Homo sapiens: one gene and its partners. The protein of the gene in region 2 purifies or fractionates together with the protein of the main gene of each other region. This does not show direct contact. Each region holds a gene or a part of one and is shown on either strand. Other genes may lie near its edges.

Region 1 (2,467 bases), about 96 Mb from region 2:
TTGTAAAATGCACCAAACTGCGCTCTGTAAAATGCACCAATCAGTGCTCTGTAAAATGCACCAATCAGCAGGAGTCTAAAAGTAGCCAATCGCAGGGAGGATTGAAAAAAGGCACTCTGATAGGACAAAAATGGAACATGGGAGGGGACAAATAAGGGAATAAAAGCTGGCCACCCCCAAGCCAGCAGAGGCATCCCACTGGGGTTTGCTTCCACCTGTGGAAGCTTTGTTTTCACTCTTACTGCTCCTTACTCTTTGGGTCTGTGCCATTTTTAAGAGTTGTAACACCGCAAAGGTCCGTGGCTCCATTCTTGAAGTCAGTGAGACCATGAACCCACTGGAAGGAACCAACTCCGGACACAATATGACTATATAATTCTACCATGGGTAGAATAAGCAAGTAGAGCAAGACATAAGCAGTAGAGCCAGTTTTTGTAGTCAGGCTTTCTAAACACTGCAGGTGTATAGATATAGCTGATGAAGAGAAGCTCTTTGCAAAATATTGACCACATTCATTTATTTTTATAATGTCAATGTATTATTGATAGCATTAAAAATGTTACAGAAGGCAATGGACACATTGTACTGATGTGATATTAAGAAACATTGCTAGCTATGGCACCAAAATTTATGTGACATAAGGAAATTATAATACCTAACACATATTAGTTTTCTCTTCCCTGGTTCTAACTAGCAAGTGCCAGGAGGCAGGCTGGGTTAGACAGCGTGACCAAGAGTAAACTTTGGATGGTCCAGGATAAAATTATAACATAGGTGGTTTGTCGTTGCTTGTGTTTATTTAATGTTCTCTCGCTTTCCTTGTCTAGCCAAGATCCCATGCTATGTTGACTTGTCATCTCCAGAAATGTCTTCACACTTGGAAGTTCCCTTAAAAAGCCCTTAAAATTTACCTCCTCTAGGACTTACTAGTTCCAATTTTTTCAATATTAATACACATATGAATCATCTGGGGATCTTGCCCAAAAGCGGACTTCTGTAGGTACAGGGTAAGGCCAAGGACTCTGCACTTCTTGTAATTATACTTCTGGGTGATACTGACGCTGCAGTTCCATGCACCACACTTTCCACAGTGAGGCACGCAAGAACATTTAGAACTGCACATTTTAAACAGAATTGTAATATGTTAGGTTGGTAATAGATGTTAGAAGAGTTAGGCAAACAAGATTTAATTTTGAATGCTTGGAAACTAAGACCTTGAACAAATATGAGAAAGAAATGAGAATACATTTGGAAAACTCTTTTTGAATCTTTCAAATTTCTTTGGGTTATGTTCTTTCTTCCTTCAAAAGTAAATCTTTCCTTTCTCAGGAGTTTTCCTCACAAATTTAACAGGAAATAAAAACCTTTCAAGAAAGTCTCTTTGCCTCTACACATCTGAATATTCTCTGTAGAAAACGATGCAACCTGTTTTTTTGCAAAATTCCGTTATTTAAAAAAAAAAGTCTGAATAACTCTACGTTACCTGAATTCAATTATATAATCTATTGGAAACATAAAGTGGTCCTCTTTTGAAGAATTATTATATTTACTAATTTATTCAGATTTCTTCAATTGAATGAATCAATAGTATTCTCTGCTCATATGGTATTACTGAAACAACTACATAGAAAAAAATAGCAGGGCCGGGTGCGGTGGCTCAGGCCTGTAATCCTAGCACTTCTGGAGGGTGAGGCGGGCGGATCACTTGAGGTTAGGGGTTCGAGACCGGCCTGGCCAACATGGTAAAACCCTGTCTCTACTAAAAATTACAAAAATTTAGCTAGCCATGGTGGCGGGCACCTGTAATCCCAGCTACTCTGGAGGCTGATGCAGGAGAATTGCTTAAACCTGGGAGGCTGATGTTGCAGTGGGCCAAGATCCTGCCATTGCACTCCCACCTGGGTGACAGAGCCAGACTCCATCTTAAAAAAAAAAAAAAAAAAAGATGTTTCCCTTTGGGAGTAAATGGCCATTGATGTTACATTAGAAATATAATAGCTCCAAAGAATGTTCACCTTTGCCACTCTTTGGAGCGTGTGTGATATCTCCAATAGAAATTAAAGAACTGGCTTCACTTTTTTGTTTGTTTGGGTTTTTCTTGAGAAAGGGTTTTGCTCTGTCCCCCAAGCTGGAGTGCAGTGGAACGAACAGGGCTCACTGCAGCCTTGACCTCCTAAGTTCAAGCGATCCTCCTGCCTTAACTTTCTGAGTAACTAGGACTACAGGAATACACCACCTATAGTCGGGTTTTCTAAACACTGCAGGTATGTAAGTATATACTGGTCAATTAAAAAAATTTTTTTTCCTTGTAGAGACCAGGTCTTGACATGCTGCCCTGGTTGGTCTCCAATTCCTGGCCTCAAGCATTCCTCCCACTTTGGCCTCCCAAAGTGCTAGGATTACAGGCATGAGCCACCACGCCTGGCCTGAGAACTTGCTTTATTTTAGCCAAAATTATTTTATCACT
Region 2 (3,500 bases):
AAAGCCTACCAGGTCTCTCTCTATATATGTATATATATATGTATGAGTAATTATCTGAATGCAAATAAAAAATTGAAAGCAGAATCACAAGATATTTTTCATGGGATATATGAGAGGGGAACACTGATGTGCCTAGAGGACAAAAAAGTAGAGACAATCAAAACAGTTTAAAAAAAGAAAGAAAGAAAAGTGCACTTAAAAAAAGCATTTATGTGAAAAGTTATGGGGCTCTTTAAAATAATATCTTGTGGGTATATGTATACATTAAACTAAAAATTTTTTAAATTTAAGATTACGATTAGCCTCATTAAAACAAACATTTTCTAAATGTTTAAGTTCTCACAACGTGAGGAATTTTTTGTAAATGCTCAATTGCAAGATAAATACTTAGAACTATTAAGAATACAACAGAAACAAAATATTCTTGTTTTGCACATTTCATTATGGTTTGTGAGTTAAGATTTCACTCTGAAGGATAATCCAACACATAATGTCCACAGCAGAGTTGTTAAATTCGATAACAACTAGCAAAATTAAAATTAAAGTAAAGAATAATTTGAAATTGGCAGGAAAGATGTCTTAAACAAACAACTGCAAGGAAGGCTAAAGTGTTTACTAAGACAATTTTTTAAAATATAAGCTTACCTCTTTCAAGCATTCTGAGTCCTCCTCCCTCTGGCCTGTTCCCTCTGCAGAACCCAGACAAGGAGGAAGGCTGGGACTGAAGGCCATGAGGTCCGTCTTATGCGGGCCCTCCCCAGAGCACACCCTCGGCCGCCTCTGCTGCGAGTACGACCAACTCCCTGCCGCGCTGGAGCACACTAGAGTGGGCTTGCCCGGCGCGCACGCGCCCTCGGTGGGCGGTGCCGAGCACCGCAGCGCAGTATACAGCAGCAACGTGAGCACCAACAGGCTGGACACCGCGCAGATGGCAATGATCAAGTAAACATTGACATCCACCAGCGCCGCTTCTGGACCCACAGCGCCTGCCGACGCCCTCGACGAAGCCTGTGGCGCTTGGCCGCTCTCCACCAGCGACAACAGCACCGTTGCCGTGGCCGTCAGCGCGGGCTCACCGTGGTCCTTCACCAGCACCAGAAGGCGGTGGTGCGGCGCGTCCACCTCGTCCAGAGGGCGCGTCGTGCTGATCTCGCCAGTGTACAGCCCCACGCGGAACGGGATGCGCGCGCCGACCGCCGCCAGCTGCAATTCATACGAAAGCCACGCATTGTAGCCCGAATCGGCGTCCACCGCGCGCACCTTCGCCACCACGTGGCCTGCACCCACCGACCGCGGCATCAGCTCGCTCACTGTGCCTCCCGCGCTGCCAGCCCCGGGCGTCAGCAGCGCCGGAGCGTTGTCGTTCTCGTCCAGCACGAACACCTGCAGCGTCACGTTGCTGCCCAGAGGCGGCACGCCAGAGTCGCGCGCGCTCACCTGGAACTGCAACAGCTCCAGCTCCTCGTGGTCCAACGGCTGCAGCGCGTACACCTTGCCGCTCTCCGCGTGCACCGACACGTAGCTCGACAGCGCACGCTCGCCCACCCGCCGCTCCACCAGCGAGTAGGAGACCAGCGCGTTCTCCTGTGCGTCCGCGTCCTGAGCAGACACCGTGAAGATGTGGCAGCCCGGCGGATTGTTTTCCTTCACGAACACCGTGTACTCGGGCTGCGCGAACGCCGGCGCGTTGTCGTTCACGTCGGCCACCCCCACCGACACGCTGGCCGTGGCCCACAGCGAAGGCGAGCCCCCGTCCCGCGCGGTCACCACCAGTTCATAGGCTGATACGCTCTCGCGGTCCAGGGCGCTGTCCAGCACTAATGAGTAGTAGTTCTTGTAGGTGGACACCAGCTTGAAGGGGACATGCGGCGTCAAGGTGCAGGTGACCTGTCCATTTGAGCCAGAGTCACGATCGGACACACTGATTAGGGCAATAATGGCGCTAGGCTGAGTGTCTTCTCTGATGGGGAGTGACAAAGAAGTGATGGTAACCTCTGGGGCGTTATCATTTACATCTAGTACTTCCACCAAAAGGGTACAATGACCCGCCATTGGAATATTTCCTTTGTCAACTGCCTCCACGGATATTTCATATAATTTCTTTTCTTCGAAATCTAGTTTGCCTTTTGTCCTAATTTCTCCATTGTTCGGATTTATGGTAAATGCATATACCACTGCAGGCCATACAGGCCTTCTAAATGAGTAAACTATATCTCCATTTGTACCATCATCAGGATCTGTGGCATTTAGCTTGATCACTAATGTTCCATTGAAGGCGTTCTCTAACACCGTCACTTTATAAACGGATTGGTAAAATTCCGGGGCGTTGTCATTCACGTCCAGAATCGTGATGAGCAGCTGAACTGTGCCAGTCAGCTCGGGTTTACCTCCATCACTGGCTGTCAGTAATAAACTATGTTCCTGAATTTCCTCTCTGTCCAGTGTTTTCCTCAGTACAAGTGATAATGAAGACATTTGCTCAAGACTGTTTTGTGCGTCCAAAGTGAAATAATCGTTGGGATCCAGTCGGTAGGTCAATGCCGAGTTTACTCCAATATCTGCATCGGATGCGCCATCTAGTGGAAATCGAGTTTCCGGAGGTCTAGATTCTGCAATGATTATTCGTTTCTTGCTTTCAGGGAATATGGGCGGGTTGTCGTTAATGTCCCTCACCTTCACCTCCACATGGAAAACCTGCAGAGGCCTGTCCACGATCACCTCCAGGTGGATGCTGCACTCCGCGCTCCGCCCACACAGCTCCTCGCGGTCGATCCGAGAATTCACAAACAAAATGCCATTCTGCAGATTTACCTCCAGAAGGTCCCCGTGTCTTTTGGACGCCACCCGGAACAGGCGCGGCACCAGCTCCGCCAGCTCCAGCCCCAGGTCCTGAGCGATGCGGCCCACGAAGGTGCCGTGTTTTGCTTCCTCGGGGACGGAGTAGTGGAGCTGGCCACTACCCGTCTCCCAGGCTGCGAGGATCAGAAGCCAGAGCAGTAGTTGCCGCGGTCTTGGGCCTCCTTGCCAGGAAGACAGCATGGTACACTCCAAAAACCTCAGAGCTATCTGCAATATATACAACGCCTTACCTCAAACTGTCTCTCAAGGCCCAATTTTTATGGCTTCCTAGTGCGGAAGGATTCGCAAGAGGTATTCCGCTTTCTGCTATATTTTCTGCAGGAAGAAAGAAACGGCGGCTTTCTTCGCGGAAACGTTCTCAGTGAAGAGCGACACCATGCGCATGAACGTGTAAGTGTAAGTATGACTCAGTCTTCATATTTTCCATTGATGTAGTATTTTTTTGCCCCTTGCATTTCCTGACATTTTCACTGCAAATATGTAATTGAAGATTAAATGTTTACCTTCCCAGAAACAGCAAATCACTGCATTCTGCTCAACATTTTATATTAGCTGACAATTGGTTGATGAGTTTCATTTTGCCACAAATTTATTTTTCCATGTGTAAGAATTCCATGCAGAACTTTAAGACAAAGAATATT
Region 3 (3,708 bases), on a different chromosome or scaffold from region 2:
GGTATTTTGCAAATCAAAATAAAAATAGTTGTTGCCCAGATATACACAAGACATACACATACATATGTACACACATATACATCTATACATATATGTGTGTATAAATAAACATGTGTATATATACATATACATGTCACTATACTGTAGAAGCTAAAATATTGGTGATTCTTAGTTTTTGTGGGTGGTGGCTTCACGAATGTGAAAGAAAAGGAAAGAAAAAAAAGACAAAGGATGGGAAGGGGAGGAAATAATAGGACGGGAAAGAAAAGGGAAGGAAGAGGGACAAGCAGGGATCGATGATAAGGGTGTGTTGTAAACCAAGGACTATGATGAATTTGTGCATCTGAAATTCATATTTAAAATGTTTTAATGCTTTCTTTTCTACCTGTCTGACATTCTCTCTCTATGAAAACTGATCAAATGTTGGAAGGTAAGTTTCAAGTGTGGAGAGAGACCAAGGGAGATGGCAAGAAGGAAGTTGGTAAATCAATTTGGGGTACACGGGCTTTGGGGTCCCTCAGGGACACTCAGGCGGTGATGTCCAATAGACAGTTGGCAAAGCTGATATGAGACACGGAGAAGGGAACAGCCTGGAGCTGTAGATCTGGGAGTCATCGGTGTTTACTGGAAATGAATGAGATCACACAGGGAGAGACAACTTGAGGACTGAGGAGAGAGGAGGCCCAGGACAGAACCCCAGGAACACCGCCACTCAAGGTGGCAGCTCAGCTTCCTGGCAGGCACCACTACCCCCCGGGCTCTGGAGTCAGGCAGAGCCGGTATTGAAAGTGGGCTGTGGAGTTCTGGGGCTGAGCGCTCTTGGCAAAGTCCGGTACCTCTATGATCAGCTGTCACACCTGGCGATAATGGGCATCAGAGAGATATGCCTTGCGAGGATGCTGTGAGCTGCGTCAGGTAAAGCACCTAGGGTCAGAAAGCCACCTCTCCTCCTCTTCTCCGCGACCCCACTTTGCTACACAAACGCACCGAGACTCCGACCGTCCCCAGCCTCCGGTCCCTCAGGGATGGAAGGTGAGGTATGTCAGGAAAGAGAGGGGGGCCCAGCTCCAAGGTGAGGTGTGTCAGGCAAGAGCGGGGGCAGAGCTCCGGTGACGCGGTGCTCACGTGACCCGCCCGGCGCCTACGTGGGCACCAGCCCCCGCGCCCGCCCGCCAGCCCGCCCAGCGGTCGGGTCCGGGCGCCCGCGCAGAATCAGCTGTCTGAGCTGCCCAGGCGGCGGGGGAGCAGCGAGCGGGCTTCAGCGAGCCGCAGGAGGCACAGGCCTGTCCTGGGTCCCCGCAGGTCAGTGTGAAGGCGTGCGCTGCCGGCGGACCCTGGGACAGGGGTGGAGGGGGCTGGCAGTAGGATTGGGGAGGGGGCGGAGAAGGGATCCGGTAGATTGGGGAGGAGGGGGATGCGGAGTCGCGGGGGCGGGGGCAGTGGAGGGAGAACCCCCGAAGCAAGCCTGGCTCGCCTTCTCGACGCCCCCTTGCACTGAGTCCTCCATCCATTTTAGTGCTGGAAATGGGGGGTGGGGGTAGCGACCCCGCAGTGCGACAGTGAAACGTAGACATATTCTGGAAATAACCCCTTCTCACAATCTACACCCATGGAAACACTTGATCTCCGCAAAAATGAGGTGGCGCTGGGGCAGGTTGCCTCCGGGGAAGGGGGACACAGAGACAAACGCAGTTTGGAAAGCATCCTGGTTTGGTGCCCGAGGCCTGGAAAGAAATGGCGGCTGGGGTGCGGGGGAGGTAGGGGAGGAAAACGGTGGGTAAGCAGGGCCTGGACTCAGGAAAGGGAACCGAGTCCCTGTGAGCCCGCTAAGCGCGCAGCCCCTGCCCCTGTCTCCTGTCTGTCCGCAGGTCTGCGCGTCTGTTGTTCCCAGCGCTCTGAGAGGCCTGAAAAGGAAGAGCAACCTGTCCAGAATCCCCGCAGGTCCGTGAAAGCAGGGGGCTGCATGGACAGGGGCCCACAAGGGTTGAGAGTGTGGAGGGCACAGTCAGGGCCGAATTGGGGCCCCTGCCCATCCCCTTACCTACATGAACACACACCTTACCAGGCTGAACCAGTGCAGAGAAGGTGGCAGGGCCTGCCAGGGAACAGCTGGCTCACGTGTGTGGGAGGAGTGGTGGGCTACGTGGTGGGCAGAAGGCCCTCTTGGAGGCCCAGTCAGCTTAGGGGAACCCTCACCAGGGGTGAGATGCAAGTAGTATCCAGACCTGCATTCCACCCCATGCCCTCAGTCTCCCATGTCTCCTCTTTGTCTCCTCTTCCCTCCACACCCATCCCCCAGGAAAGGAAAAGGAGGGGAAATCTCGACATGGAAAAACTCTTCAATGAAAATGAAGGAATGCCTTCGAATCAAGGAAAGATAGACAATGAAGAACAGCCACCGCACGAGGGAAAGCCAGAAGTAGCTTGTATTCTGGAAGACAAGAAGTTAGAAAACGAGGGAAACACAGAAAACACGGGCAAGAGAGTTGAGGAACCGTTAAAGGATAAAGAAAAGCCAGAGAGTGCGGGAAAGGCAAAAGGAGAAGGAAAGTCAGAGAGGAAGGGAAAGTCAGAGATGCAGGGAGGATCAAAGACAGAGGGAAAGCCAGAGAGAGGGGGAAGGGCAGAGGGTGAAGGAGAGCCAGACAGTGAAAGAGAGCCAGAGAGTGAGGGAGAGCCAGAAAGTGAAACAAGGGCTGCAGGAAAGCGCCCAGCTGAGGATGATATACCCAGGAAAGCCAAAAGAAAAACCAACAAGGGGCTGGCTCAGTACCTCAAGCAATATAAGGAAGCCATACATGATATGAATTTCAGCAATGAGGACATGATAAGAGAATTTGACAACATGGCTAGGGTGGAGGATAAAAGGAGAAAAAGCAAACAGAAATTGGGGGCGTTTTTGTGGATGCAAAGAAATTTACAGGACCCCTTCTATCCTAGGGGTCCAAGGGAATTCAGGGGTGGCTGCAGGGCCCCACGAAGGGACACTGAAGACATTCCTTATGTGTAGTGTCCCTGGCAGGCATTTGTCAGGCCATATGTTTTAACCTTATGGTAATACTTTGCTTTAGTCGTTCCTCCTGCTACCAGTAGCGTTTTGACCCACCTGCCAGTGTTTGCTTGCTCTATGTTTCAGTAGCAGATTTTCACACATGTGCATTGCAGAGACGTCATGATTCGTGGAAAAATAAAGCAGCTTATAATATCATCTACAGAATCTGTCTGTTTTTGTTAAATACATGAAAGGTTAACAGTGGTTTTCTGAGTTGTGAGCTAGCAGGTGATTTCATTTCTTTGTTTTCTTTCTACTAATCTTTCTTTTCCCAGAGAACACAAATTACTTTTCTCACAAAAATAATAAAATATTTTTAAAAAATCAGAACAGTATGTAAAAAGCAAAGAGAATAACTGTCCAGTGAACTTATGAAGTTCAGTAGAGACACTTAACGTTCTTGTTGTCAGAACTTAAAATGATAGGTAAAATTCACATTACCTACCTGTGGGACTCATCTGGAGAAGTCAATCTGGGGTTATTACAGATCCATTGCTCTAACGGACAGTCTTTTCATTTGTCAAATAGAGATAATACCTTGCTTTTCAGAACTGCTGAGTGGGTTGGATAAGGTAGAGAATATATTTGTTGGGTTGGCATCTACCTTCTCCCCTGCTCTAGCAGAAAAAAATACCCCCTCAGACACTTGGAAGAGG
Region 4 (3,500 bases), on a different chromosome or scaffold from region 2:
TCATGGGATCATGACTGGCATTTGGGGGTAGGACAATCCTTCATTGGGCAGGAAGGACTGAACTGGTTCCCTGACACCCATTCAATGCCAGCATCATGCTCTCACTGGACAGCCAAGATCACCCTCAGAGATTTCCAAAAACCCCTAAGGGTGGGTGGGAATCTCCTCAGCTAACTACTCAGGTAGAGATATAATCCCCTAACAATTTTTCTCCAAACTGTGAGCAAAAGCACAGATGGGGCAGGGCACGGTGGCTCACACCTGTAATCCCAGCACTTTGGGAGGCCGAGGTGGGCAGATCACGAGGTCAAGAGATCAAGACCATCCTGGCCAACATGGTGAAACCCCATCTCTACTAAAATACAAAAATTAGCTGGGCATGGTGGTGGGCGCCTGTAGTCCCAGCTACTCGGGAGGCTGAGGCAGGAGAATTGCTTGAACTGGGGAGGCGAGGTTGCAATGAGTTAAGATTGCGCCACTGCACTCCAGCCTGGGCGACAGAGTGAGACTCCGTCTCAAAAAAAAAAAAAAAGCACAGATGGACTTACCATATTCAGGGGTACTCAAGTTTTTCCAGTGTTAAAGATTAGTATAAAATCAAGGTGGCACCAGTCTTGGCCCTGGTTTGCTAGTCCCTGGTGGTCTAGCTTCTGTACCATGGCCAGAGGCAACTCTTTCAGAAGACTTGGCTTAGAGTGGAGCTTTCTTTCAGTAGGAAGACACTGTTTGCAGTAAGGACTTCCTTTTGATGTTAGAGAATTAAGCCTAAAACCATTAGCAAAGGAGAACCAGGTACACAAATGTACTTGCACACGCTTTTATGGGGTGTGGAAACCATCCAATGCTGTTCAGTCCACTCCTTTCCCCCACTTCACTCCTTAGCAGCTTGTTAGAACTGAAGCTTAAAATGGTTTCTGTTGTCTTGCAGCCAGCCTGCAGATCCACAGTTGGCCTCCCTCAGGGACTCTCTGTTAACCTGTTGACAGGCAATAGTCAATTAGGAGCATTAACCAGGATCTGCCAAGTTTGCCAGGACAAAGGTGGCAGTCAATAAATGTAGAAGTCTATTGAGTTTAAGATATAATAATGGCTCAGACATCTGAATGAACACCAAGCACATTATTATAGTGCAAGGACACAGTCAAATCAGATATGCAGTGGACTTTGGCTTTCCAATAAATACTTTCATTGACCAGTGCACAGAAGGAGGTGCATGGGCCCCTGGTTCTGCATGTAGTATGAATGTGTAGAACTGGAATTGAAACAGTAATAGGTATAGGATGGGATTTTGTAAGAATCATCCATTTGTCATATGTTCAACAAACATGTACCTGAGCACTCCTGCTATGTAAGACCCTGTCCAGCCAAACGTCAAACTAGAACATTCTGGGTCATGTTGAAACCGGGAACAGACAAATATTTACAATGTGATTGCAGAAATTCACCACAGGCTCTCACAAGCAGTTCTTTCCTTTCACTGCTCCTGATTAATCTTCTCTCTAGAACTGACCCTTATAAAATATTCCAGACCCCCAACTGTGGTCTGATGGAAAGGAGACTGGGCAGGAGCTCAGAGGACACAATTTCAAGTCCTTAGCGGGGTGACCTTGAGCAGGTCAACATCGGCACCTCAGTTTTCCATCCCTAAGAGAGGTAACATCTGCCTTGCTCTTCTCACAGGATCACGGTGAGGGCTATAGAGACATGATATACATGTCAGAGCTTTGTAGACTCTAAGAGAGCATTTCCCCAACAGGTAAGAGGCAAACACTGTTCCTCAGGATGGAAAAAAAAAACGGGCCCAAGCTCAAAAAAGATGAGTGCTGGATTAGACAAGGTTAATCAGGATGGTTTCTTTTCTTTTCTTTTTTTTTTTTTTTTGAGAGACACAGTCTCGCTCTGTTGCCCAGGCTGGAGTGCAGTGGCATCATCTCACTGCAACCTCTGCCTCCTGAGCTCAAGCAATCCTCCCACCTCAGCCTCCCTGGTAGCTGGGACCACAGACATGTGCTACCACACTCAGCTAAGTTTTGTATTTTTTGTAGTGACGGGGTTTTGCCATGTTGCTCAGGTTGGTCTCAAACTCCTGGGCTCAAGTAATCTGCCCACCTCAGCCTCTCAAAGTGCTGGGACTACAGGCGTGAGCCACTGTGCCCAGCCTTACGCATCTTTAATGAACTAAATAACACATACACTATATGAAATAAATGTACCCAGAGTGATTCTTCACGAGAGAGACACTGTGACGTAATTTCCCAACCCTTTCTTAAGGACACCCAGCAATTCAATGTTCTGAAAGCAGTGTGGGAAAATGCAGCTGTAAGGTATTAGATTGTTCTCAGCAGAAAAGCAATATGCTCTTACCTGTCCTTCACTTTGTTCACAGGCTAAGGAAGCAAGAAAGTGGAGGGGCGGGCAGAGCCAGATCCAGTGGTTTCACTCATGCAAGACAGAAGTCACTGTCTATCCTGTGGCTGGAGGGGCTACTTTGCTCAGAAGACACAGGTCTTCCCCAGAATCTCACGTGGCTGCTTACTGTTTCCCTGTCTTCTCTCCCCATTTTGTCCTTTGCTAAGGAAACTGAACTGAATTCCAGGTCTTCTCTAATAGAGTGTCTCTCCTTCAACAGGGAACAAAACTACAGTTGCCTGTAGTTTTTGCTTCTGTTCAGTCTCCATCATGGCATGCCATACTCTCCTGGTTTGTGCCCTGCTTGTTTCTTTACTGCCTTCCTGCCTGCCCTTTCTGTGCTGGAGGCTCATCCCATTCATGCTCAGCCCTCCTCGCTGTCTACACTGTCTTCTTGGGCAATCGTATCTAGTCCCAAGCCTTTTTAAAAAACAAGCTCTACCCATCATGGTGGAATTCCTGTCTATAAAAGGGCACACCTTCAGACCTCCAGGCACCTCCAGAGAACAGTGCTGTGCACAAGAAACCGAATTCAGTTGTGTGGGACCTGCAGCTGCAATCAGGTTTCAAACTCCTACTGAAATAACTAAGACTGCCCTTTGCAATCTTGAAGCTTATATAATAATTTTAAGTGGTATAAAATAAATCAACATTCAAAGCAGGGATAGCTAAACATCCCAGTGGTTTCCAAATTCTGTTTAGTCTCTATATAATAAATACCCAAGGCAAGACCAACAAAGAGGCAAAGTCTGATGTTTTGGGAAGATTTGGACAGAGAAAGGTGGGTTCCCTTGCATCTTCGCAGACATTTCCGACCCTTCCTAAAACTCCTCAAGTTCATCTGGCTCAGACAACCTCTTCCAATACTCTGCTTTTTGCTAATGAAAGAAAAGCTAAATCTTGGATCATAAGCAGCATCTACAGTTTCAGTGCAGCATGTCTGCTGACGAGAGGTAGCACTGCCAGCTGCATCTGAACAGCATTCTCCTGGAGAAAACTGAAACAGAAGGGCGGTTCATTCTCAGTGGTGGATGATGAGCAGGTCTCCTCTGTGGTGTGCATATGTGGTTTCTAAGTTTTATATGATGACA
Region 5 (3,500 bases), on a different chromosome or scaffold from region 2:
TAATTCTAGTGTATATATATATATACTTTTTTTTTTTTTGAGACAGAGTCTTGCTCTGTCTCCCAAGCTGCAGCGCAATGGTATGATCTCAGCTCACTGCAACCTCTGTTTCCCGGGTTCAAGTGGTTCTCCCTGCTCAGCCTCCAGAGTAGCTGCAATTTCAGGTGCCCATCACCATGCCCCGCTTATTTTTGAATTTTTAGTAGAGATTGGATTTTGCCATGTTGGCCAGGCTGGTCTCAAACTCATGACCTCAAGTGATCCGCCCATCTCGTCCTCCCAAAGTGCTGAGATTAAAGGCATGAGCCACCGCACCTGGCCAATTCTAGTATATTCTTATCAAATGACCCTTGATATGGTTCATTTGAAATAAATAACATTAGAAGCTCCAGTCAAGCAAAAGACAAAGTAGAAGGCATCACTATTTTGTTCACATTTACCCATCAAACATTTCCTGAATGACTGAGCCAGCCTGCAGAGCTAACACTGCAACAGTGAAGTGAAGAAATCCCAGACCTGGGGTCCTGGAATCCAAGAGCCCCATAGAGGAGACATGAACATATCCCACTGCAAACAAAAATATCTCGGTGAAGGTGAAACTTAATGGGAATTGGCTATCCAGGAACATTCTGCCCAGGTTGCAAATGAGGTTGGAGAAGTCTTGACAGAAGAGGACTCTTGAAGTTAGTAACAACCATGAGATTTACTGAGTGTTCAAAAGATTCCAGTCATTGCTGAATAATATCCCCTTAAATTTGCCATTAAAAGCATCAGTAGGATTTGAACAGGCAGAGGAGGCAGGGAGGAAACACAGCTTGCAAAGGCACAAACATGCAAATGTGCCTGGCATGCCTGGGGAGCATCAGGTAGTCCATAGCAGGAAAGCTAAAACTGAGAGGAGCCCTGAATCCCAGGTGAAAGCTTCTAGACTTAATCTAGGGGACCACATGCAGGCATTCAAGATTTTCAAGCCAGGGATGAAAGGAACAAGATCTATGCTTTATTTTTATTTTATTTATTATTTTGTGACAGGGTCTCACTTTGTCACCCAGGCTGGAGTGCAGTGGTGCAATCTCAGCTCACTGCAGCCTCAATCGCCCAGGCTAAAGAGTTCCTCCCACCGCAGCCCCTCAAGTAGCTGGGACTACATCCATGCACCACCATGCCCAGGTACGCTTTTTGTATTTTTCGTAGAGACAAGGTTTCACCAGGTTGGCCAGGCTGGTCTTGAACTCCTGTGCTCAAGCGATCTGCCCACCTCGGCCTCCTAAATTGCTGAGATTACAGGTGTGAGCTGCTAAGCGCAGAAGCACGATCCATGTTTTAGAAAGGTTAATTCTGGAGCTGGGAGGAGATTTTGTAAAATCCAGAGAGCCAGAGGCAGAGGAAGTTAGGAGGCTGATGACATCATTTGGGTGAGAGAAGGCAAGGGTGGAGGCAGTGGCAATGGAGAGAAGTGAATTGGTTCTTAAGATATTCTAGAGAAAGTCAAGAAACTTTCTGTCCAGTGATCTTTATGTTCTTCCCTGCTGCCTTTTTTTTTAGAGACAGGTTCTCTAAAAAAGACTGTTGTGCCAGTCTGGGGTGCAGTGGTGCAATCCTAGCTCACCATAGGGTCTCACTGTGTTGCTCAGGTTTAGTCTTTATGTTCTTTGTAGAAGAACAGATTCAGCTATCTGCAGAGCAAGAATATTTGGGGGTGGTAAGGAGCAGGGGGAGTGGACAGTCTGGAACAGCCCCTGAGGTAAACATGACAGAGATACGAGTGAAGGAACAGAGAGATAAGAGTGAAGGAACAGAGAGGCTCAGGCGTAGCACCAATGGCCCAACTGAGGCTGGAGCTCAGAAACCAGCTTGTGCAGCCAGTTAGCACGGCTGAGTAATTTGGTCAGCAGTGCTGGAAAGCCTAGACACGCAGGCATAGAAAACCTGTGCCTGGGTTGATTTAGGATGGAGAACTGGCCAACCAGCCACCACAGAAGGTCAAAAGGAGAGGGATGGCTGCCTGGCCCTTTGTCCTTCCTGCTGGCTGGCATGAGAATATGATAGCAGGAGGCGACACAGCCAAGACAGACCACAATGTAAGAGTGGAAATGAAAAGTCACAGCAGAGCAACATGCTATAAAGAGTCGGAGTCCCTGATACCACAGAGTCGCATCACACAGTGCCCCAGACCACATACCTGGGCTTTTATGTGCAAGAGAAAGAAACTTCTAGCTTGTTTCAGTCACTGTTTTGTTAGGTTTTCTACTGCTTGAAGCCAAAACGACTTTAACTAATAAAAACTGAACTGAGTAGAAAAGAAGTAAAACCAGGAAGGGGCTGGTAAAGAGAAGACCAGAGACCAGAGGGCTGACCCTTACCCTGTCAGTCCAGAAGCAGGTTTAGAGGGAGTGGGGTAGAAGGGAGGAAGGCTGTAATCAAAAGGGGAATTTCAGCATTCTAGATTTCAGAAGTAGAACAGTTCCCAAGAAGAAGTGGTTAAATTCTTTGGGATTTTTGGTTGTTTGTTTTTGAGTAAGGGTCTTGCTCTGTTACCCAGGCTGGAGTGCAGTGGCATGATCACGGCTGACTACAGCCTCAACCACCTGGATTCATGTGATCCTCCGACCTCAGCCTCCTGAGTAGCTAGAACTACAGGTGCCTGTCATCATGCCCAGATAATTTTTAAATTTCTGCAGATACGGGGTCTCACTATGTTGCTCAGGCTGGTCTTGAACTCCTGGGCTCAAACGACCCTCTCACCTCGGCCTCCAAAAGTGCTGGGATTACAGGCTTCAGCCACTGTGCCCTGCCTTGGTGGTTAAATTCTAATCACAGCATTCATGGCAGCTCATCATTGATTGAGAATTTAGGATGCACTGAGCAATCACTGTGCTAAGCAAGTGCTTCCCACGGATAACTCTCCGCCAAATCCCAAGGAGGAAGGCACTACCATTAGCTCATTTAATGATGAGGAAAGTAAGATTTGGAGAAGCTGAATCATGCGCCCAAGACACTCAGCCCCCTAGTGGTGCTTGGAATTCGACTCGAGAGCCAGAGCATGGCCTGCTGGGACACACTGCTGCCCAAGTGTTCCCCTCTGCCTTCCCGATCACCCTCCATTCTCCCACCACCACTCTAGTCCCACAAAGTGAAACAGAATCAATAGCTCACCTGCAGCGACTCTCCCTGGAGAAGGAATGAGAACTCCGCCCATGTCGAAAATCACCGCTCTGTAGGTGCTGCCTCCAAGGTGTGTCCATCGGTGGGACCCCTGGTGCCTGCGCTGGGTGTGTTTCAGGAAGGCTGTTCTCCACACCCACTGGAGACGGGGGGACTGGAAACAGCTCCTGACACACATGGTGAGGCTGAGGCTGTGTGGGAAGAAGGCACAGGGCGTTACTTGCCTGCACTGCCTCCCAACCAGGCCTCCATCCTGGAGCTCAGAGGGGCCAGCCAGACATCTCTAACCCATCTCCAACAGGCACTTCGAATCACACCCACAACTGACCTCAGTG
Region 6 (3,500 bases), on a different chromosome or scaffold from region 2:
GTGAGCCGAGGCCATTGCACTCCACCTGAGCGGCAAGAGTGAGACTCTGTCTTCAAAAAAAAAAAAAAAAGGAAAAAAAAGAGTGTTATTCAAAAACCTCTTTAGGCCAGGCGCGGTGGCTCACACCTGTAATCCCAGCACTTTGGGAGGCTGAGGCAGGCAGATCACTTGAGGTCAGGAGTTCAAGACCACTCTGGCCAACATGGCGAAACCCCATCTCTACTAAAAATAAAAAAATTACCCAGTCATGGTGGCAGGCACCTGTAATCCCAGCTACTCGGGAGGCTGAGGCAGGAGAATTGCTTGAACCCAGGAGGCGGAGGTTGCGGTGAGCCGAGATCGGCGCCACTGCACTCCAGCCTGGGCGACAAGAGCGAAACTCCGTCTCAAAAAAAAAAACCAAAAAACAAAAAAAAAACTTTGATTAAAATGGGTAGTTCTCCAAAAAGGAATTCTGTGAGTTCAAGCTCTTTTTTTTAACACAAGTGTCTTTTTTGTTTTGATTTTCTCTTTTCTTTTTTTTTTAATATAAGATTCTGCCTTAGATTAACTTTGAAAATTACCTCCTCCTGATTGATTAGACTGTGTTAGGGACGTTATTTAGGCCACTCATTTATCTACTTCCCTCACCTGTCTCTCCCCATCTTTCCTTCTGTTGTTATTGTGTTTTTTAACATGAGGGTTTTGGGGGAAGCTAAAGAGAAGACTGCAAGATGAGTGTTTTCACAGGGCGAAGCCCCTGTGGTTGGCTGCTGGAAGGTTTCTCAAGGGCTTTTTATATCCAACAGACTGAAGGTCCAGAATTAAGTCCAGGAGTAATTGAACTTCAAGATAAGTTACAAAATGAGATAGAAAGGTGCATCTAATAGTTATCTGGGAAAGGTGTTAAACAAAGCCATGATTAATGGTAGTTAATAAGTTATGAAGGTACCAAAGAATTCTTATGAAGTAAGTTTTTTGAAATGTGTTCTGTGTCATCATTAAGCTAAGACTACTTGGCAGATGTCTTACAGTCTGGACTACGTAACCTTGACCAAGATTCCTCATCACCCTAGATTGCAGCATTGTGTCTTCAGGGATGAATAAACCACTTGAAAGTGAAAACAACATCATACCATGATAGGAGGCCAGGTGCAGTGGCTCACACCTGTAATCCCACCACTTTGGGAGGCTGAGACAGGAGAATCACTTGAGGCCAGGAGTGTGAGACCAGCCTGGGCAACAAAGTGAGACCCCCATCTCTATAAAAATAAATTTTTAAATTAGCCAGGCATGGTGGCATGCACTTGTAGTCCCAGCTACTTGGGAGGCTGAGGCAGGAAGATTGCTTAAACCCAGGAGTTCAAGGTTACAGTGAGCTGTGATCATGCCACTGCACTCCAGCCTGCACAGCAGAGTGAGACCCTGTCTCTAAAATAAAATGACAGGAGACATCACATTAGCCTAAAGGTTAACTTCTGGACACCTTGGCTGCTAAGTCAAAAAGTCCAGAAAGCCACCCTTGCTTTTCACTACTTTCAGAATAAACAGACCTCCGCTTCCTTTGTAGCTTAGTGGGTGATTGGATTCTAAACTGGCCACTCTATAAGAGAAGACAATTTGAACTAAAGCTGTTGCTAATAAATGGTTATATCTACTGCAATGAAGAGGAAACAAAAACATGGAGTCTGTTGAAAAGTGGCTTGATTCCCTCAGTCAACTAATTGATAAGTATTTGTTAAGCATTAACAATGGTTCTGGGTGCCATGAGCTATACTACAGAAATATAAATCTAATAAAAATATATCCTCTGCCTTATAAGTAGATTAAGACCAGTTAGAGAGAGGAAGCTTAAGGTAAGTTAAATAATAGTGACCAATGCAGGGTACTATCTAATTCATTACAAAATTATGTGGAATTTTTTTTTGTTTTTTGACGGAGTCTCACTCTGTCCCCCAGGCTGGAGTGCAGTGGCGTGATCTTCTACCTCACTGAGTTCAACTCAGTGAACTCACTGCAACCTCCGCCTCCTGAGTTCAAGCGATTCTCCTGCCTCAGCCTCCTGAGTAGTCAGGATTACAGGCATGCGCCACCACGCCTGGCTAATTTTTGTATTTTTAGTAGAGACAAGGTTTCACCATGTTGGTCAGGCTGATCTCGAACTCCTGACCTTGTGATCCGCCCGCCTCGGCCTCCCAAAGTGCTGGGATTACAGGTGTGAGCCACTATCTGGAATTTTTTAAGCACTAATTGGCTGGAGAATGTACTTTAGGAGTTTGGAAAGAACAAGAGGAGAATTAAGGCAATGCCATGCAAAGGGACACCCTTAAACAGGTATGGAAGGCAAGTAGACATGGCGCATTCGAGGGACTGGGTAGAGAGAGAAGCTGGGTGGGACCAGTGGTTCTGTCCTGGTGAGTAGTGGGAGTGCTGTTGGCCCTGCGAGGCCAGGTCATCGAAACTGGGCACAGCTGTTTAGGCCGTCCACTAAACCTTCACCATCCAGTACAGCAGCCAGTAGCCATGTATAAATACAGCCATTTAGTTACATGTGGCTGTTGAATGCATGAAGTGTGTCTCTTTCCAACTGATGTGCTATAAGTGCAAAATACACATTGTATTTCAAGACCAGTGCGAAAAAGAATGTAAAATTCCTCACTAATCACTTTAACTAATCACATGATGATGTGAAATTATTTTGGATATATTGGGTTAAATGAAATATGTTATTAAAATTAACTTGTTTTTACTTTTTAAAATGTGACTACTAGAAAACTTTGAATTACCGACGGGACTCACGTTACATTTCTCTTCAACAGTATTACGCTAGATTAAAATAAGTTGTCATGAGTTGTTGAACAAGGGGAAGGAACTGACAAGAAGTGATACCCGAACCTAGAAATGCCTCTGGGAGAGGCAGAGCAGAGTTGCTTCCCTGGATACATTGGCACCTTGTCAACAATTTCTTTTAAGGCAACACATTGACATGGCAGGAGTTCATGATTTAAAAAAAAATTTTTTTTAAAAAGAGAGCTGTGTGAAAGAAAGCAAGGCTGTTAAGGCTGTGAGTCACATAGAGGATTTAGCCATTGGGTGGTACCTTTCCTTTTATATAAACACCCACCAACAGTGCAGACCCTCTCCAGCCCCTCCCCCTCCCCACCCTCACTGCCATACACTGCCGTGCTTCTTCCCACTAGTGTGGCCGTCTGAATCTTCTCTTTAGCATCACTGACAAGTGGTGGCTTAACATCTGTGTGAATGCCTCCAATGATGAGGAACTCGGTACCTCACGAGGAAGTGTGTCCCATTCACTCAGTATTGTTACCAAAAATACTTTCTTCCCGTCCTTTCCTCCCTGACAATGCTTAAAAAGAGGGTTAGAGTTCCTGGATCCTTGATTCCAGGTAACAAGAGGGGCTTATCATTGTTTTTTAAAAACAAAAAGAGGCCGGGTGCAGTGGCTAACACCTGTAATCCCAGCACTTTGGGAGGCTGAGGAGGGTGATGTCACCTGAGGT
Region 7 (3,500 bases), on a different chromosome or scaffold from region 2:
GCTCCAAGACAAACATTCGTGTTTCTCTCCTCAAAAACTTTGGGTAGCTCCCTATGATGGTCAATATTAAGTGTCAAATGGATGGCAAAGTATCGTCTGTGAGGAGCCAAACATTTGAGTCAGTGGACTGGGAGAGGAAGACCCACCCTCAATATGGGCAAGCACCATCCAATCAGCTGCCAATGCAGCTAGAACAAAGCACAGAATAGGCGTATAAGCAGCTTGCTGAGTTTTCTGGCTCTCTCTTTCCTGCGTCAGATGCTTGCCTCCTTAATTCCTGCCTTTGGACATCAGACTCCAGATTCTTCGGCCTTTGGACTCTGAAACCTGCACCAGCAGCTTGCCTGGGGCTCTCAGGCCTTCGGCTGCCGACTGAAGGCTGCGCTGTTGGCTTCCCTGGTTTTGAGGCTTTTGAACTTGGACTGAGCCACTACCACCTTCCCTTTCCCCAGCTTGCAGGTGGCCTATCATGGGACTTCACTGTGTAATCTTGTGAGCTAATTCTCCCTAATAAACCCCCTTTTTATATATACATATATCCTATTGGTTCTGTCCCTCTGGATAATCCTAATACGATCCCCAAATCCTCAGGACAAAGTCCAAATTCTTAGTCTATCGCTTTACAATCTGTCCCCAAGTAACTTCTCAGGATTTTTTTTCTCTCTTTTTTTTTTCTTTTTTTGAGACAGAGTCTTGCTCTGTCCCCCAGGCTGGAGTGCAATGGCATGATCTCAGCTCACTGCAACCTCTGCTTCCTGGGTTCAAACAATTCTCCTGCCTCAGCCTCCCAAGTAGCTGGAATTACAAGTGCCCGACACCTTGTCCAGCTAGTTTTTGTATTTTTAATAGAGACGGGGTTTCACCATGTTGGCCATGCTGGTCTCAAACTCCTGACCTCAAGTGGTCCACCCTCAGCCTCCCAAAGTGCTGGGATTACAGGTGTGAACCACTGTACCCAACCTTTTTTTTTAAAACAAAAACAAAAACAAAAAAAAAAACAGGGTCTCACTCTGTCACCCAGGCTGGAGAACAGTGGCACGATCTCGGCTCACTGCAGCCTCCGTGCCCCCCTCCCCAGGCTCAAGAAATCCTCCTACCTCAGTCTCACGAGTAGCTGGGACCAGAGGCACACTCCACTATGCTTGGCTAATTTTTGTATTTTTAGTAAAGGTGAGATTTCACCATGTTGCCCAGGCTGGTCTTGAACTCCAAAACTCAAGCAATCCACCCACCTTGGCCTCCCAAAGTGCTGGGATTACAGGCATAAGCCACCACGCCTGGCCAAGGATTTGCCTCTCACCATTTCCCTCCCTCCTGGTGCCGTCTGCTTATGATACCCGTCTTTCATGAAACACTTTCCATCTCTACACCAGCTCTACTTATTCTTCCCCACCTGTCAAATGCTTGTCCCAGCAAAACCGCCTTCTCTGCGGTGCCTTTTTAGCATTCCCAGCCCCAGCATCATTCCTACTGCACTCTTAATCTGACATTGTAGTTTTCATCTGTACAAGTTTGAGCTGGGTCTACTTTGTATCTTCCATGTCTCTATGTAACTTCTAAATATATAGAAGACATTTATAATAATGTTTAATGTTCACATGCTATTTCTAGCCTATGTCATGTCTGAATCAGTTTCAGTGGACTCAGTACAGCTCACATTTTCCTGCCTCTTAGCATGCCTTGTCATTTTTTATTGGATGCCAGATATTGCAAATTTTACCTCTGTGGGTGCTGGGTATTTTCTGTATTCCCTTTTTTTTTTTTTTTTTTTTTTTTTTTGGAGATGTAGTCTTGCTCTGTCACCCAGGTTGGAGTGCAGTGGCATGATCTCGGCTCACTGCAAGCTCTGCCTCCTGCGTTCACACCATTCTCCTGCCTCAGCCTCCCAAGTAGCTGGGATACAGGCACCCAGCACCACGCCCGGCTAATTTTTTGTACTTTTAGTAGAGACAGGGTTCCACCATGTTAACCAGGATGGTCTCGATCTCCTGACCTCGTGATCCGCTCGCCTCAGCCTCTCAAAGTGCCGGGATTACAGGCATGAGCCACCGCACCCGGCCATTTTCTGTAATCCTATATTCGTGAACTTTGTTCTGGAGTGCAGTCAAGTTACTTGGAAACAGTCTTGCTGTTAAGAAATTAGGTGGGCTTCATCTAAGGCTAATCTAAGGCCTCCACTACTGAGGCAAGACCTTTCTGAGTACTCTACCTACATGCTCTGTGAATTATGAGGGTTCCGTCTGGCTTGTGGGTGAAATAGGCAGTATTCTTGGCCCTGTATGGAGAAACTGTTCCTTCCAATCCTTTTAGGTGGTTCTTTATGAGGCCTCCAAGAGCTTCCTCATGCCCTGATTAGCACTCTACTGGATGCCTGGTAGGCGCAGGGCCAGGGGGCTCCCCGTGCATATCTTCAGAGTTCTCCCTCTTTGTAGCTCTCTCCTCTCTGGGTGCTCTGTCTTGTGAACTCCAGTTACCTCGATCTCCTAGACCCTCAACTCCATCTCCTCAACTCAGAAGTCTGCTGGGCTCTGCCTGGCTTCCCCCTTCCCTGTCACAGCCTGCACACTCTTTCAAGGCAGTAAGCCGGAGCAGTGATAGGGTTCACAGCATTTGTTTCCCATCTCTGAGATTGCTACCCTTCATTGTCTGATGTCCGGTATCTCACAAAGTGTTGTATCATACGTTATATCTAGCTTTTTGGTTGTTTCAGGCAGAATGGTATATCTATTCCCAGTTACTCCATGTTGGCTGGGAATGGAAGTCCCTACTGAACTCTCTTACATCTGTATCTGTATCATAACCTACCATACTAAGCACATGGCATTGAAATTGTCAGAATAAAATGTGCTTTACAAGGGCAGAGACTCTTTTATATTATGTCCTTTGTGCTTTTAACACTTGATACACAGCAGATGCTAAGGTGTTCAATATGCGTGTTGAGAGAAAGAAAGACTGCTCAACTTCTTGTATGCTTCAGACCTGGGAAATTTTTATTTATTTATTTATTTATTTACTTTTGAGACAGAATTTCGCTCTTGTTGCCCAGATTGGAGTGCAATGGTGTGATCTTGGCTCACTGCAACCTCTGCCTCCCAGGTTCAAGCAATTCTCCTGCCTCAGCCTCCTGACCACAGGCTGGGATTACAGGCATGTGCCACCATGCCCAGGTAATTTTTATATTTTTAGTAGATACCGGGTTTCGCCATGTTGGCCAGGCTGGTCTCAAACTTCTGACCTCAGGTGATCCACCCGCCTCAGCCTCCCAAAGTGCTGGGATTACAGGCGTGAGCCACCGCACCTGGCCAGACCTGGGACATTTAAACAAAGCTAGCATTGAAAACTTCACTATAAGACAATAATCTACTTTATCTCCTAATATGTCACTTTCATGCACCTTCTTCTCTCGCCTAAATGAGCTTTCTATAGAGCCCTACAAATATCCTCCCTTACCTTTTTCAGAATTCTATGCATCTTTCAAGGTCCTAACCAAGTTTATGTTC

Evidence for each region.
Region 1: the proteins of PCDHA12 (region 2) and HCN1 purify together in Homo sapiens (co-immunoprecipitation; one large-scale study listed by IntAct). This does not show direct contact.
Region 3: the proteins of PCDHA12 (region 2) and TCEAL2 purify together in Homo sapiens (affinity purification with mass spectrometry; 2 studies listed by BioGRID and IntAct, with this or other methods). This does not show direct contact.
Region 4: the proteins of PCDHA12 (region 2) and SLC25A15 purify together in Homo sapiens (affinity purification with mass spectrometry; one large-scale study listed by BioGRID and IntAct). This does not show direct contact.
Region 5: the proteins of PCDHA12 (region 2) and ACAD10 purify together in Homo sapiens (affinity purification with mass spectrometry; 2 studies listed by BioGRID and IntAct, with this or other methods). This does not show direct contact.
Region 6: the proteins of PCDHA12 (region 2) and CNNM1 purify together in Homo sapiens (affinity purification with mass spectrometry; 2 studies listed by BioGRID and IntAct, with this or other methods). This does not show direct contact.
Region 7: the proteins of PCDHA12 (region 2) and TMEM192 purify together in Homo sapiens (affinity purification with mass spectrometry; 2 studies listed by BioGRID and IntAct, with this or other methods). This does not show direct contact.

The regions. Positions count from the first base shown.
Region 1 is NC_000005.10:45,254,448-45,256,914, forward strand, and holds the end of HCN1 (potassium/sodium hyperpolarization-activated cyclic nucleotide-gated channel 1), read right to left. Parts: 3' UTR 501-2,467; downstream 1-500. UniProt on the Homo sapiens protein: Hyperpolarization-activated ion channel that are permeable to sodium and potassium ions. Displays lower selectivity for K(+) over Na(+) ions.
Region 2 is NC_000005.10:140,881,808-140,885,307, reverse strand, and holds part of PCDHA12 (protocadherin alpha-12 isoform 1 precursor), read right to left. Parts: intron 3,185-3,500; exon of another isoform or gene 3,040-3,184; coding exon of another isoform or gene 616-3,039; exon of another isoform or gene 428-615; intron 1-427. Other genes in the region: PCDHA13 (protocadherin alpha-13 isoform 1 precursor), read right to left, coding at 646-3,039. UniProt on the Homo sapiens protein: Potential calcium-dependent cell-adhesion protein. May be involved in the establishment and maintenance of specific neuronal connections in the brain.
Region 3 is NC_000023.11:102,124,505-102,128,212, forward strand, and holds TCEAL2 (transcription elongation factor A protein-like 2), read left to right. Parts: upstream 1-1,174; 5' UTR 1,175-1,302; intron 1,303-1,868; 5' UTR 1,869-1,941; intron 1,942-2,299; 5' UTR 2,300-2,326; coding exon 2,327-3,010; 3' UTR 3,011-3,208; downstream 3,209-3,708. UniProt on the Homo sapiens protein: May be involved in transcriptional regulation.
Region 4 is NC_000013.11:40,799,611-40,803,110, reverse strand, and holds part of SLC25A15 (mitochondrial ornithine transporter 1), read right to left. Parts: exon of another isoform or gene 2,387-3,500; intron 1-2,386.
Region 5 is NC_000012.12:111,692,553-111,696,052, reverse strand, and holds part of ACAD10 (acyl-CoA dehydrogenase family member 10), read right to left. Parts: intron 3,357-3,500; 5' UTR 3,344-3,356; coding exon 3,157-3,343; intron 1-3,156.
Region 6 is NC_000010.11:99,381,356-99,384,855, forward strand, and holds part of CNNM1 (metal transporter CNNM1), read left to right. Parts: intron 1-3,500. UniProt on the Homo sapiens protein: Probable metal transporter.
Region 7 is NC_000004.12:165,106,361-165,109,860, forward strand, and holds part of TMEM192 (transmembrane protein 192), read right to left. Parts: intron 1-3,500.